2 linked regions of the Homo sapiens genome follow. The protein of the gene in region 1 purifies or fractionates together with the protein of each later gene. This does not show direct contact. Each region holds a gene or a part of one and is shown on either strand. Other genes may lie near its edges.

What was found. The genes of interacting proteins can lie anywhere in the genome.
Region 2: the proteins of USP15 (region 1) and RNF40 purify together in Homo sapiens (affinity purification with mass spectrometry; 4 studies listed by BioGRID and IntAct, with this or other methods). This does not show direct contact.

The regions. Positions count from the first base shown.
Region 1 is NC_000012.12:62,263,404-62,272,299, forward strand, and holds part of USP15 (ubiquitin carboxyl-terminal hydrolase 15), read left to right. Parts: intron 1-8,896. UniProt on the Homo sapiens protein: Hydrolase that removes conjugated ubiquitin from target proteins and regulates various pathways such as the TGF-beta receptor signaling, NF-kappa-B and RNF41/NRDP1-PRKN pathways.
Region 2 is NC_000016.10:30,771,374-30,776,807, reverse strand, and holds the end of RNF40 (E3 ubiquitin-protein ligase BRE1B), read right to left. Parts: intron 4,976-5,434; coding exon 4,835-4,975; intron 4,720-4,834; coding exon 4,618-4,719; intron 2,871-4,617; coding exon 2,694-2,870; 3' UTR 501-2,693; downstream 1-500.

The DNA.
Region 1 (8,896 bases):
TGCAGATAATGACTGTCTCATGGTAACTCGGGTAACTAACTTCCATACCTAGGCAAGTATAAAGATTTATTTCATTCTGTGTAAGTACTACAGTTTCTCTTTATTTGTAAGCAGTGAATGATTTTTATCTAAAAACTGATTTTCTAGAGATGAAAATAAGTTACACAAGTGTGAGATGAAGAGAAACATACTTTATGATGTATTTAGTTCTAGACTTTATATTGAGAAGTAAATCAAAATTAATACGAGAGTAATACCTTTTTAAAAAGCAAGAAGAAGGTAGCACTGATTTGTATAAGGAATAAAGCAGTCTCAAAATGATATTTGTTGATCTGTGTTTCAATTTCAACAAGAGATCAGAAAAACACGAACAAAATTTAGAGTTTAGGAACTATAGGAAAGAGATAAATGAACTAGAATTGTATCGCTTAGGATGAATTAAAAACAATTTTCAGATACATGGTGGTTTCTTCTGATGAGACAAAAAGATAATTTGCTTAAGGTACATATGAGTATTTTAGGAACATATTTAAGGAATGGTAGTTAATGAGTTACAAAGAAAATTATGGGTTATAAAATACTCTCTTTGGAAAAAAAGTTTTTGAAACAGAGTCTCGCTGTGTCGCCCAGGCTAGAGTACAGTGCGTGGTCTCGGCTCACCGCAACCACCTCCAGGGTTCAAGTGATCCTCCCACCTCAGCCTCCGCAGTAGCTGGGCCTGCAGGCACATGCCACCACGCCCAGCTAATTTTTTATTTTTAGTAGAGACAGGGTTTCCCCATGTTACCCGGGTTGGTCTCGAACTCCTGGCCTCAAGTGATCTGCCTACCTTGGCCTCCCAGAGGGCCGGGATTACAGGTGTGAACCACCTGCAAAATTTCTGGCCTGGAAATTTTTAAAGAAATGGGCCTATTATGAGTAAGTAAAACATAACCACAAATCATCCAAAGCACTGCTTCGTTTCCACCATTTTTATTAAATGTTATTCATCTGCCAATCATTTTCAGTAATTTTTATGTGTGATTATGTTAAGTGGTAATGTGTAGTTAACTTTTGCAGTTTAGCAAAACATTGCATGCCATTTTTGTATAAACCCTAATAACTGTAGTAGGTAACTTTACAGAGTAAGTAATTTGTGTGTGAAGTCATTTAAAATCTCTGTGACATTTTCATTTCAATAATTGCCAAAGAATCTGATCAGTGAAGTTTTAGACAAGAGACATTGATTTCAGTTTTTAGAGCTTTCTGTCCATTCCGACTTTTACTTAGAAATCTTTGAGGCTTAATTTTATTTGATCCCTTATGTTCGTGCAACTTTGAAACTAAAAGAAAATAACCTTATACTCACAAATCCCTTAATAATGAAAAGGAACACTATTACTCAACATGAATTTCAAAATATTTAGTGTATACTTAAAGAAATTTTTATATTACTATTACTTTTAAAATTAGTTTCAGTAGTGCCAGGGTGTTTACGACCAGAGTAGGGTATATACTACATCATTTATAGGAAATGAAACTAAAAGGAAAAACTTCTTCAGTCTTGGTAAATTGGTGAAAACAAGGACAGAGATAGTGACCTTAAGGCATGTTTCACATCTTAGATGCTTAAAAATCTAGGAAAGCAACTTTTCTTAATTTAAGCCTTTTTCGTAAGTTTTTAAATGACTTCTGTTAGTGAGTCCAGGGTTAATGTACCCTAATAGTCCAGGAAGGTCCAGAGCTAGTCAATGATTTCGTTTATCTGTTTTGTGAAATTAAGGCTTTTTTTCCTAAATTATACCATTTTCCTGTTAGCACATATAAGGCATTAAATGACCTTTTTGCAAAATGGTTTTGTGACAGTTAACAATTTTGCTTCTACGTAAGTGTAACAAGATAAAATCAGTTTGTCAGGCCATGACCTGTAATATTACATTTAAAAACACTATGTGCCAGGTACTGTTATAAATGCATATTGACTTATTTACTCATCACCATATTACCACAATTCTGGGAATCGGTGTTATTCACATTTGACAAAATAGGAATCATAGGCTCAAAAAGGTTTTCACATAGTGGTATAGCTGGGATTTGAACCCAAGTAGTTTAGGTCTTTGGTTTGTGCCCTTAAAGCACTGTACCACATTGCCTCTGATTTTATTTAAAAAAATTTTTTCTAGAGACAGAGTCTCGCTTCATCACCCAGGCTGGAGTGTAGTGGCATAGTCATAGCTCACTGTAGCTTCAAACTCCTTGGCTCAAGCAATTTTCCTGCCTCAGCCTCTGAAATAGCTGGAACTACAGGTGTGCGCCACCACACCCAGCTAATTTTTAAAGTTTTTGTGGAGACGGGATCTTACTGTGTTGCCTAGACTGGTTTGAAACTCCTGACCTCAAATGATCCTCTGACTTCAGCCTCGCAAGTATTAATAGCTGGGATTACAGGTGTGAACCCCTATGCCCAGCCTCTGTCTCTTATTTTAAAGATTCATTTTTTAAAAAGTAGATTCACTTTAAAAAGAAAAGAACCTATTTTTCTTTTTAAAGGAAGTCTATTTTATATTTAGTAGCAGAATTCTACCATTTGCCTCTTGTGACTGTTCAGTTTAGATATGATAGAACATGTAGGAAATCTTAACACCTTGCTTCTGGATATTAAAACATGCTTAAAGATTGATAGGTGAATAATTGAATGTACAGAGCAAATGTCATTTTGATCCACAAGTACATTCAGACAAAAAAATTTGAGGTCATTTACTATTGAGCTTTTGAATTTTAATTGTCTATCAATAATCATAAGCTCTTATTAGAGATGATATGGCCCCTTCACATATAGTTTTACAGAAATAACCCATGAAGCATATAGTAAGATCTTGTAGGCTATTTTGTTTCGGTACTTGGTCCATATTTTAAAAGTATGGTATTGGTTTACTATAAGCCACAAATACATACGGCTTTCTTCTTGGACTTAAATCCATATGAACCACTCAGCACAGAAAATGCAAATATGAATGCATTATTATGTTCACCAACTGATTTTTTCCCTAGAGATAACTCTTAAAGAATTTTTGAAGTGAAAGAACATTTAAATTAAGATAGTGGAAGATACAATGATAATAAAACAGTCAATTTTGCTATCTTAGTCTTGAATTTATCTTATGATGTGAGTTTAGAGTGATTCTTCTTTTTTTCACTGAAAATCACTTCATTAATAAGTCATGATTATTGACAAAAGTAAATTGAAACCATTGGGCATATTGGTAGGGAAATAAGGGGAAGATAGAGAACAACTGATAAAGGTTGATTATGTGCATTACGAGATTTGATCCTCAAAAGAAGGACCAAAATATATATATTTATATGACTTATAGATGAGGAATCTGAGAGAAATTAATTTGCTTGCTCATAGTTTACTACCAGCGGACATTTATTAAATGCTTAGTCTGTCGCAGCCACTATTTTAAATGCTTTACACTTACATAGCCTTTAAAGTACATGCTCTTATTACACTTCATTTTATCTTTGATGATTTCAGAGCTGGTTTAAATACCTGGTTTATAAAGATTTAAAGTACTAGATACTATCTAATACTAAGAATAGATCCTTAGTATTAAAAATGGTTTTATGCTGTCACTACTCGAATGTAATTCAAACAATATTTCATTAAACCATGGGAATTTCTCTTTTTTCTTAGTCCTTGTATAGAATTTTTCAACAATTACTAAATACTTTTTTTCTTCCCTGAGTAATGTCAGTCTAGCTTGTTTCTTTTAATTTCCTCACTTACCACTGTAATTCACATTCTGTGTCTCATATTCATTCCTCTGAAGCCACTTCGCCAGACTCGTTCTCCCATTTATCCTTTAAACAGGGGAATGTAGATCCTTTAGATTTTATCACCCAGTTTACACAAAAGTCACTATTCAAGAAATCTAGCATAAGCCTAGTAAGTAGCCTCAGTTTTGGATACAGATTAAAATTATTTGAGGGAAGGGTCAAAAATGGCTCCTTACAAAGAAGGAAATAAGTTCCAATTATAATATAAAACAGAAAACCCCTGTAGGATTAACCTGCATTTGATTATGTCTAGACTGCCTTTACTACTTCCATCACTAAGATTCTACATGGTTTCCTTATAGCTCTCCAAAAAGAAAAGAGTAATGATGCCTTTTTTTCCTCCAAGGAATGGAGAACTAAGAATGCTAACTGTCCCTTCCATTCTCCCTTTAGTTTTGAGAAGACCCAGATATTAGCGTGGTAATTCCCCACCATAAGAGAAAATCATTTAGCAGAAGTACCAGTAGCAAGGACTTCTTTGTGAAGGAAGTCAAAGATCTCACAAAGAAGTTCAAGGGTGGCTCTGAGGCCAGGGTATTCTAAGTTTAGAGCCAGTTAAATCAAGACCTGAGAACATTTAGAGACAAAGTTACTTAACTGAAAAGAGCATCAAGTTCCTTGTTCCAGGTAGAAAACACCTGGTAATCTGGATTGATTTCTGTTATTTACCCATATGTTTTTACAGCTTAACAAAGTTTAACAGGTTAGTCAAGAGATTTGCCTTTGATAAAAAGATGGGAAATTTATATTCATACATTTGAATGGATTTCAAGCTGAAGAACTTTTTAATTCTCAGGAGAGATGTAGCTAAGTATTTATATGTACCACATAGTTGTGGCTATGGTTTACAATAACTTATTACTCATTTACTATGTTAAGAGCATTTTAAAAGTTCTCTAGATACAGGTTCCATATATAATGTAATATATTTATTCCAAATATATTACATATATGAAATACATGGTAGTATTCTCATTTTACCAGTACAGAAACTGGGATAGTTAAATGTATATGGTCATAACACTTAGTCAGTGGTAGAGCAGGAGGTCTAACTTAAAGCTTGCATTTTAAATTCTAAGTGTACTGCCTGCCTATGTGTGATAGAGCCATACCCAGATTATGGAAGCAACTTTTTGAAAGACAAATACTTGAAAGTATTAAAATCAAGAAATGACAGCTTTGTAATACTTGTTAAACACATTTTCATTTGTTATTAATATCAAGAGCCTCTAGAATTTTGTGAGTCTTCTTGTTTTAGCCTTGTAGTCTCAGCAGTCTCATTTCTAATTAACATATCTCTGTTTTGATACAGATAGTGTCTCCCATTTCCTGCAAATTATTTGCTTTTTCCTGCTTTTGGGGCCTTTATGCCCCATTTCTGTTGTTTCAGATACTTCTTAAAAATTACTGACTTTCATTTCAAAACCTAGTTCAAAGTCAGTCTCTAAAACCACCTCTAATCTCATCCAAATTTGTGGCCCCTCCATTCTTTGCTTTTAAAATATATATGTATATATAAAACAGCTTTATTGTGATGCTATTCACATACCTTACAATTTGCCCACTTAAAGTGGACAGTTCACTGGGTTTTAGTATACTCGAAAGAGTTGTGCAGCCATGACCATAATCAATTTTGGAATCCAAAAAGGAACCTCATACCCATTAATAGTCACCTCCCATTTCTCTCCCAAACTCCTCTGTTCTAGGCAGCTACTAATCTATTTTCTGTCTTTATATATTTGCCTATTCTGGATATTTTATATAAATGGAATCGTATAGTATGTGCGATTTTTGCATCTTGCTTCTTTTACTTAGCATACATGTTTTCTAGGTTCATGCATGTTATAGCATATATCAATGTTTATTTTTACTGCTGAATGATACAGTCATGAGTCACTTAATGACAAGGATAACTTCTGAGAAATGTATGGTTAGGCAATTTTGTCGTTGTGTGAACATCTTAAGGGGGTACTTACACAAATCTAGATGGGATTGCCTACTACATACCTAGGATGTATTGCCTATTGCTCCTAGGCAAAAAAAACCTGTACAACATGTTACTGTAGTGCATACTGTAGTCAATTCTAATACAATGGTAAGTATATATATATGTGTGTGTGTATAAATATATATATGTGTGTGTGTGTATATATATATATCTAAACATAGAAAAGGTAGAGTAAAAATACAATATTATGATCTTTTTTGTTTTTAGAGACAGGGTCTGGCTCTGTCACCCAGACTGAAATGCAGTAGCCCAATATTGGCTCACATTGCCCTTGATCTCCTGGGCTCAAGCAATTCCACTGCCTCATCCTCCCAATTAGCTAGGACTACAGGCAAGCACCACTGTGTCTATTTTTTATTTTTATTTTTTTGTAGAAATGAGGATCTTGCTGTGTTGCCCAGGCTGGTCTTGAACTCCTGGCCTCAAGCACTCCTCCCACCTTAGTCTTCCAAAGTGTTGGGATTATAGGCATGAGCCACTGTGTCTAGCCAGACATAATGTGTCTGTTATTGACCTAAATGTTGTTATGTGGTATGTGACCATATTCCATTGTATAGATATAACACATTTGATATATCCATTTATCAATTGATAGACATTTGAATTTCCAATTTTTGCCTATTTTGAATAATCCTGCTATGAACATCCATTACAAGTTTTCATTTCTCGTGTATATACCTGTAAGTGGAATTGCTAGGTCCCTGTTTAACTTTTTAAGGAACTGCTAGACTGTTTTTCTAAGTGGCCGTAATTTTACATTGCCACCAGCAGTGTATGAGGGTTCCAGTTTTTTCACCTCGTCAGCACTTATGTTCTTTTTTTTAATATATAGCCATCTTAGTGGATATGAAGTAGTATCTCATTGTAGTTTTGATTTGCATTTTCTTGATAGGTAATGATGTTGAGTATCTTTTCACCTGCTTATTGGCCATTTGTATGTCTTTTGGATGTCTGTCCAGATTCTTTGCCCATTTAAAAAATTTGGTTATTTTGTCTTTTTATTATTGCATTGTAAAAGTTCTCTAGATACAGGTTCCTTATTAAATAGTTAATTTACAAATTTTTCTCCCATTCTGTGGATTTTCTTTTTACTTTCTTGGTAGTGTCCACTGAAACATGGAAGTTTTTATTTTATTGAAATTCAATTTGCCTGTTTTTTCCTTTGTCACTTTTGCTTTTGGTATCATGTCTAAGAAGGCTTGGCTTAACTCAAGGTCATGAGGATTTACTCATATATTTTCTTTTCCAAGTTTTGTAGTTCTGGCTCTTACATTTAAGTCTGTAATTCAATCGAGTTAATTTTTTGTGTATATGGTCAGGGGAGGAGTTCAATTTCATTCTTTTGCATGTGGTTATCCAGTTGTCCCAAAACTATTTGTCAAAAAGATCATTCTTTTCCCTGTGCAATTATCTTGGTACCCTGCTTGAAAATCAATTGACTGTAAAAGTGAGGGTTTATTTCTAGATTCTATATTTGATTGACATATACCAGTACCAGATTATAACTGTGTAGACAGTTTTAAAATCTGGAACTGTGTCCTCCAACAACTTTTCAAGTTTGTTTTGGCCCTCTTCTCTTATTAGTTTACACTATGTTGAAATGTTGTTTTGTAAATATTCTTAAATATGTGTATTTCATTACTCCGTATAAATGACACACTCATCTTTTTGCAGCCTGTCTTCTTACCTTCTCTCATTCGAAATCTACCCCATCTCTTTATTTCTTAGAGGTATGTGGTATAGTAGTATTTGCAGTGAATGTTTTGTGTCATTTAACCCATGGATCTCTCTTCCACTCCTAATCTCATGCCCCAAAAGCACAAACAATGCGCTGTCTTAAGAACATAGATAAGTGTGCTAATTATCAAAAACACATTTACAGTACCTGGAAAATGTAAGACAACACCCTCAGCAGATGAAAATGACCTGGCATCCTAAAAGGAGGCTAAACTCACATTAATCCTTCAAATGAAAAAATCGTCACATCATACCCTTTAAATAATGCTTTAAAACATTCAAAATTATTTATGAATAATTATTTATGAGTCTTTGTGGAAATGCAGTTATGCAAGAAAAGTATAAAAATATTCATGGAATGATAAATGCTAAATCAGAGTAAGGGTATTCCAAGAGAGGGGCCCACAAGGGGCTATATTAATATTTATGATAATTTTCTTTAGGTGCTTGTTTTGATGGTATGTATATAGATGCTCGTTATTATTCGAAGTTTAATGTATGCCTTTATATGATACAAAATACTTTTAAAAAGCGAAGTTGATTGTAAGAGCTTTTTATTTTGAGGAAGTCCCAATTTTTCTTAGTTTTTTCTGTTTATTATTTTTATATTGTTAATACCAAACCTAATTCTCCCGGTGTAGAAAAGTTACACAGAGCTGAGAGAATTTATGTAGAGTCAAGCATTATTAATTATCATTTCCTTCTTGCTTCATATATGCTTATCACGCTTATATGTCACATATGGTTACAAGATATCTTTAGTATGGAGAGACATACACATTTAAGATATTAATGGTCATGTATGTGTATTCTGGATGAATAGTTTAAAAACAATCTTACTTGGCCTCCTTGAGTTTCTTATTTGTCTTAGTTTAGATCTAAAAAGAGATCATAAAAATTATTTATTGCTAGGTGATGGATTTAATGTGTGGAGAAGAAAATAGGTTAGAAGTGCATGGAATCTAAAAATTAAGCTATAAAGAGATGGTAAACTATTCCATTGGTTTATTTGAGTGAATTTCATAGTTTTATTTGTTTCAGTTTTACTGAAACCATGAAATTCTGAGTCTTAGTTTGTGGTACTTAAAAAAAAAGTCAGTGAAATATCTGATTTATAATAATTTAAAATACTAGATGCTGCCAGTATCTCCTTAGTGTTGAAAATTGTTTTATGCTATCACTACTCAAATATAATTTAAGCATTTTGTTAAATAAGAGAATTAGTCATAAGAGTGAATTAGTATCCAGAATTGTTTATGCCATTCTGCACAAGATGATTATAAATATTTTTCTGAGATTAAGTGTGCTACATTGGATTAGGCTGAGATTTTT
Region 2 (5,434 bases), on another chromosome or scaffold:
CAGGGTACCGCTGCCACTGGGACCACTAGGGGTGGTAAGCAGTCAAAAAATTAAGGCAAATCCTCCCGGCACCGGAGCCTCATGGGAAATGTTTATTAAGAGTTTGGTTCCTGGCCGGACACAGTGGCTCACGCCTGTAATCCCAGCACTTTGGGAGGCCGAGGCAGGCAGATCATGATGTCAGGAGTTTGAGACCAGCCTGACCAACATGGTGAAACCCTGTCTCTAAAAATACAAAAATTAGCTGGGCGCAGTGGTGCACGCCTGCAGTCCCAGCTACTCGGGAGACTGAGGCAGGAGAATCGCTTGAACCCGGGAAGTAGAGGTTGCAGTGAGCCGAGATCGTGCCACTGCACTCCAGCCTGGGAGACAGAGTGAGACTCCGTCTCAAAAAAAAAAAAAAAAAAAAAAGGTTTGGTTCCTGCCACCACATCAGTGGTTGCTGCCTCACTGACATTGTGGGATCTTCACCCCGTTCCCTTGGACTTGACCTTGAAAAAGTGGTTTGATGCCGACTTTTATTAGGTATGAAGACCCACGAGGAGAGTTTTGCCCCTCTGATAAGGAGACCGGGTGGCCTTTAGCGCAGATATCTAGAGAGACGATGCGGAATTACTTGGCATCTACTCAAGAGCCCAGGCGAAGGCTACTCCTGGAAGGGGACCGCGCTTACGGAGGCCTGGCTGACCTCCACCCGTGACCGGTGCGGCGCTCCTGAGACTGGCGCTCTCCAGGGGCGAAGGTGGCCGCGTCTCTATGATGCAATATCCTGCGTTTTTCCCACCCTCGCACCGCTGCCCCAGGCCATCGGCACTTTCTCTGCGGCCCGATGTCCTCCCCTGCCGCGGCCCGCGCTTCCACCAGCGTGCCCGCCGCCGCCGGCCCTACGCCCGAGGTCACCGTGGCGGCCCGCGTCTCCTTCTCCAGTTCGTCCTGGTCCAGCAGCGGCGGCCCCGCTTAAGTCCCGGGCGCCAATAGGGTCCGAAGGCGCCACCGCTGAGACGCACGCGGCCCCTGCCGTGGCCATAGCACTGTCGCCAGCGCCTGAACCAACACCGCTCCGCACCGGCTCTGGCGCCAGCCCCAGTCCTGCCTCGGTGAAGGATCCGCCCGGGGCGCCTGCAGCGCGCTGAGCCCAGGGGCGCCGCTCGGTACACGCCGCACCGCTCCCGAGGCCGATTGCAACGAGGGAAGTCACCCAGCTGAGGTGTCCCGATCTGTGCATTCGAGTGGTGTGGGGGTGAAGCCGCTGAGAAGCGGTCCGCAGGATCCAGTTCAGGCCGGCCTTTGGCCAGCGCAACCGGGAAACTAGCTCTCTCTCCGAGAACCTCCTAACCATGTGCGGACCAGGAACTACACTTCCCAGGATGCAGCCCGAGGAGTCCCGGCATCCCCCGGCCATGACAGCCAAGGACGTGGTCAGACCGGGGTCGGTGGGAGCAGGACAGGCGGCTCCGCGACGACCACCACGCTCTCCCCTTCAGGCCCAGTCCGGGATCCCTGCCGGCCGTTAAGTCTGAGCCCTCCCAGGCTCACACCAAGCCAGCAAAGTGCTGCTCAGCTGCTGCAGCTAAAATCGGGGGACTACATTTGGGGTGCGCGGCCTGGCTACTCTGGCTGCAGGCCGAGGGTTGAACGTTTATTCATCACAATTAACAGCCTATACAAGCATCTCTAGAACAGAGGCTGTGGGTCCAAACGGGTCCCTGCAGCTCCAACCCTCTGGCCTCTCCGGGCACTGCCCTCACAGCCGATGGAGCATGGCTGGGCAGGCAGACAGGACACAGGCTCAGTCACAGGGTGTCAGGGGGAAGCTCTTCTAGCTGGAATGATTGGAAGTTGGCCCAGCGGCTGGGGCTGGTCTGTCCCTTCCCCTCCTGGGAAGTTCCACCTCCACTGTAGTTAAGGCCACCAGGATGAAAGCAGGGTTAGGTCCAGGGACCCAGTAGAGCCTTGGGATGCATGAGGTGGGGGTAAATGGGCTTGGCAGAGAAATGGAGATTGGGAAGGGGCCTGATTAGAATAGAAACTGATGATGTTGGTTCAGCACCTGCAAGATGAGGAAGGTGACTGCAGCAACCTTAGAGCTTCCCAAAGGAAGCAAGTGATGCCCCCATCTGCCAAGAGGGTACCTCCTTCAGCCCTTGGCACAAGAGCCAGACCAAGGTGTCCAGGGAACTCCACAGGACAGAAGCCCTGCCGAGGTTAGGGGGATGGTGGGTGAAGGAAAGTCTTCCTGGGGCCTGCAGCCCAGTCTCAAACAAGGAACAAGGACATGGCTCACTGGTCCTCATTTGTGAGCCAGTAGGCAGGGAGCGAGCCTTCTCTAGGGTAGATCACAGCCTGGGGAATTTTCCTTAGGGTTAGGATGCATCCACGGAGACAGACAGGTTAGGGCCAGTTTCCGGGAAGCTCAGTCAAGTGCTCTGGGCTCCTCAGGCCTCTCAGGCAGACCTTTTCTGTAGGGCAGTGCCCCCTAGGCTGCAGCTCTGACCTTTAGGAAAAGATGGAACGAAGCTTGGCTGATCCCATGCCCACTAGCATGCACCAGGGTCCCCAAACCAACTAGATGGGCAGGGGCTGGGCCCATGGGGTCCGGAATGGAGGGTGGGGCCACTAGACCTGGGGTGGGGAGGAGATGGGGGCACAGCCCCCAGGGTCCATGGTGTTCCAGAGTCCCCTGAGTTTCAGGTTCAGCTGATGTAGATACGATGGAAGTCGTGGGCACCAAAGGCCGCGTTGCACTTGGGGCACTTCCTCTGGCGGGCCTCATAGCGGCCCCGCACGCACTCGAAGCAGAAAACGTGGAAGCACTTGGTAAGGACTGCATCCTTCTTGCGGGTGTTACAGCAGGGGCAGGTCAACCGCGCCTGGGCCAGGCAAAGGCATCAGCTTGGGAACAACTCTGACAGTGCCCAGACCCCAAGCTGACAGCAGGAGGAGTCCAGGCCAAGCCCACCACACTGGAGACTGCACCTCATCCTCCCATAACCCTGGAGGTAAGGACGAGCACTCTATGAATGAGCAAACTGAGGTGCAGAGGCCAAGGTCTCAACACTAGAAATCAGCAGAGTCCGGATTCATCACTGGGCAGTGATGGCTATCATGTGTCCCCTCAAAAGGACAAGGACCCACAGGCCCAGCCTGGACTCTGCCTTGGGGCTTCATCTCCTGCCCCACTGGCCGCCTCTGGTGAAATCCCAATCTTGTCTACCTCTTCACCTGCACTTGCTAAGTCACAGCTGGAATGGCAATGCAACTAGAAATCTGTTCTCTCTACCCTCAACTGGGCCCAGCCTCGACACTGGCCAGAGACCCTGCCGTGGGTCCCTTCTTAGCCTGAGACCTCTCTTCCGCCACCAGGAGGGTCTCACCTCCAACTCCAGACATGGATTGACTCAACTCAGCATCCCCCAACAGTGCTCCTCCAGCCTGCTAAAATCCCAGCCCAGCCTGCCGCCTCAGCAGCCTCCCTGCCATCACTCCTGTCTCCCAGGACCCTACACACCAGCACTGAACAGGCTCCCAAGCCTGCCTCTACCCCATGGCTGCCTCCAGCTGCCTCTGCCCTTCAAGGCTCAACTGCTTCCAAGGGATGACCAAGTCATATGTGGCTTCCACCTCTGCCTCTACTGACATTCCCCAAGCCTGTTCTCCAGCCCGGCCCTTTTGCCTTGAGCACCTTCCCAGCCTCCCAAAGGGGTCCCACAGGCACCTTCTCAGCATCCTTTGACACCATCCCATAGAACCTGCTCCCCCGCAGGCCTCCTAACCCCCTAAATGGTACTAACTATCCACCTAGTTTCTCAAACCAGGAAACCAGGAGTCCTCCAAGTGTTCCCTTTCCCTCACTCCATGCATTCGATCCACCCCCGAGTCCAAGCAATTCTGCCTCTGAAATGTCTCCTGAACCCATCTACTCTGGTTTCTGCCTCAGTGACTGCAATACCTTAACAATTTCCCTGCCTCCAGTCTACCTCTTCCAGCCCAAAACCAACAACAAATCTAACCACATCACTCTCCTGTTTAAAACCCTTTGAGGTCTCAACCTGGCGTACCGCACTCTTCAGGAGGTGACACGGCCCAACCTCTCCACATTGGCTCCTCTGATTACAACCTCCGGTGCTGTCCCAGCAACCCCTCCGCTCAAGCGTCCACATCTGCTGTTCCCTTTGCCTAAAGCTACTCACTCCCGTTCCTCACAGCCACGTCTGGCCTATTCTTCAGGTCTGCTGTGGTGACATTCACTCCAGGAAGCCTGCTGACCCCAGGGCCAGGGGAAGGGCCTCCCCTGAGTCCCCTCAGCCCCTCTGGCCTCTGCCATCATATTACACATCTGGGATGAGAGAATTACTTGGCTGCCTCCTCCCCTGACTGTCAGTTTCAAGAAGTCAGAGACCAGGGCCAGTTCCTAGCCTCCCAACCCACACCCAGCCAAGCACTGTGCCTGGCTCACAGTACATGTACAGCAAACAGCATTTGACTCTGTGACCACTGTGCTGCCCACTTTCTGCTGCCCTACATTACTTCCAGGGTCCCCAGACTCTCCACTAGTCTCAGCAATCCTGCATCTACAATTCTCAGGTGGATAGGGCACAACTTGGCCCACAGCCCCACCTTGTACTCCTTGATCTCCTCCTGGAGGATTTCGTCGGCATCTGCGTAGACCTCCACCTTCCTCTGCTTTTCCAGCTTGCGCCGCAGCCGTGAGATGTCCTCCTGGGGCAGGAGAGGCCTGGCTAAGGGCAAGGGTCCTCAACCTTGAGCCGCTTGCCCCCAGGATAGGTCCGTGACCGTGGACCACCCTGGCCTGGCCCCTCACCCCTGCACACACCTGAGCCCTCTTGAGGTTGAAGCTCTCTTTCTCACGAGCAGCCCGGCTCTCTGCCAGGCAGGGCTGGATCTCCCGCAGCCGAGTCTGCACGTGCTCCAGCTGCACCTTCAGGTCCTCGGCCAGCTGGGCGGCTTCTACAGCCTGAGTAGGGTGGAACAGGAAGGAGGCACTGGTCTGAGCCTGGTGACTCAGGCATGTGGAGTCACGGCCCACCAATGCTTCTGTCCAGGGCCCCAGTGACACCTGCCCTGGAGCTGCTCCTGCCTCCTGAGCCCTAAGCCCTCCCCTCCTGTTCTCCCTCTCCAGTTCCTCCCGTGTGATGCTGTTTTTTGGGGTTTCTTTGTTTTTTGTTTTTTTGAGACGGAGTCTTACTCTGTCCCCCACGCTGGAGTCCAGTGACACGATCTCAGCTCACTGCAACCTCCGACTCCTGGGTTCACACCATTCTCCTGCCTCAGCCTCCCGAGTAGCTGGGACTATAGGCGCCCACCACCACACCCAGCTAATTTTTTGTATTTTTAGTAGAGATGGGGTTTCACCGTGTTAGCCAGGATGGTCTAGATCTCCTGACCTCATGATCTGCCCGCCTCGGCCTCCCAA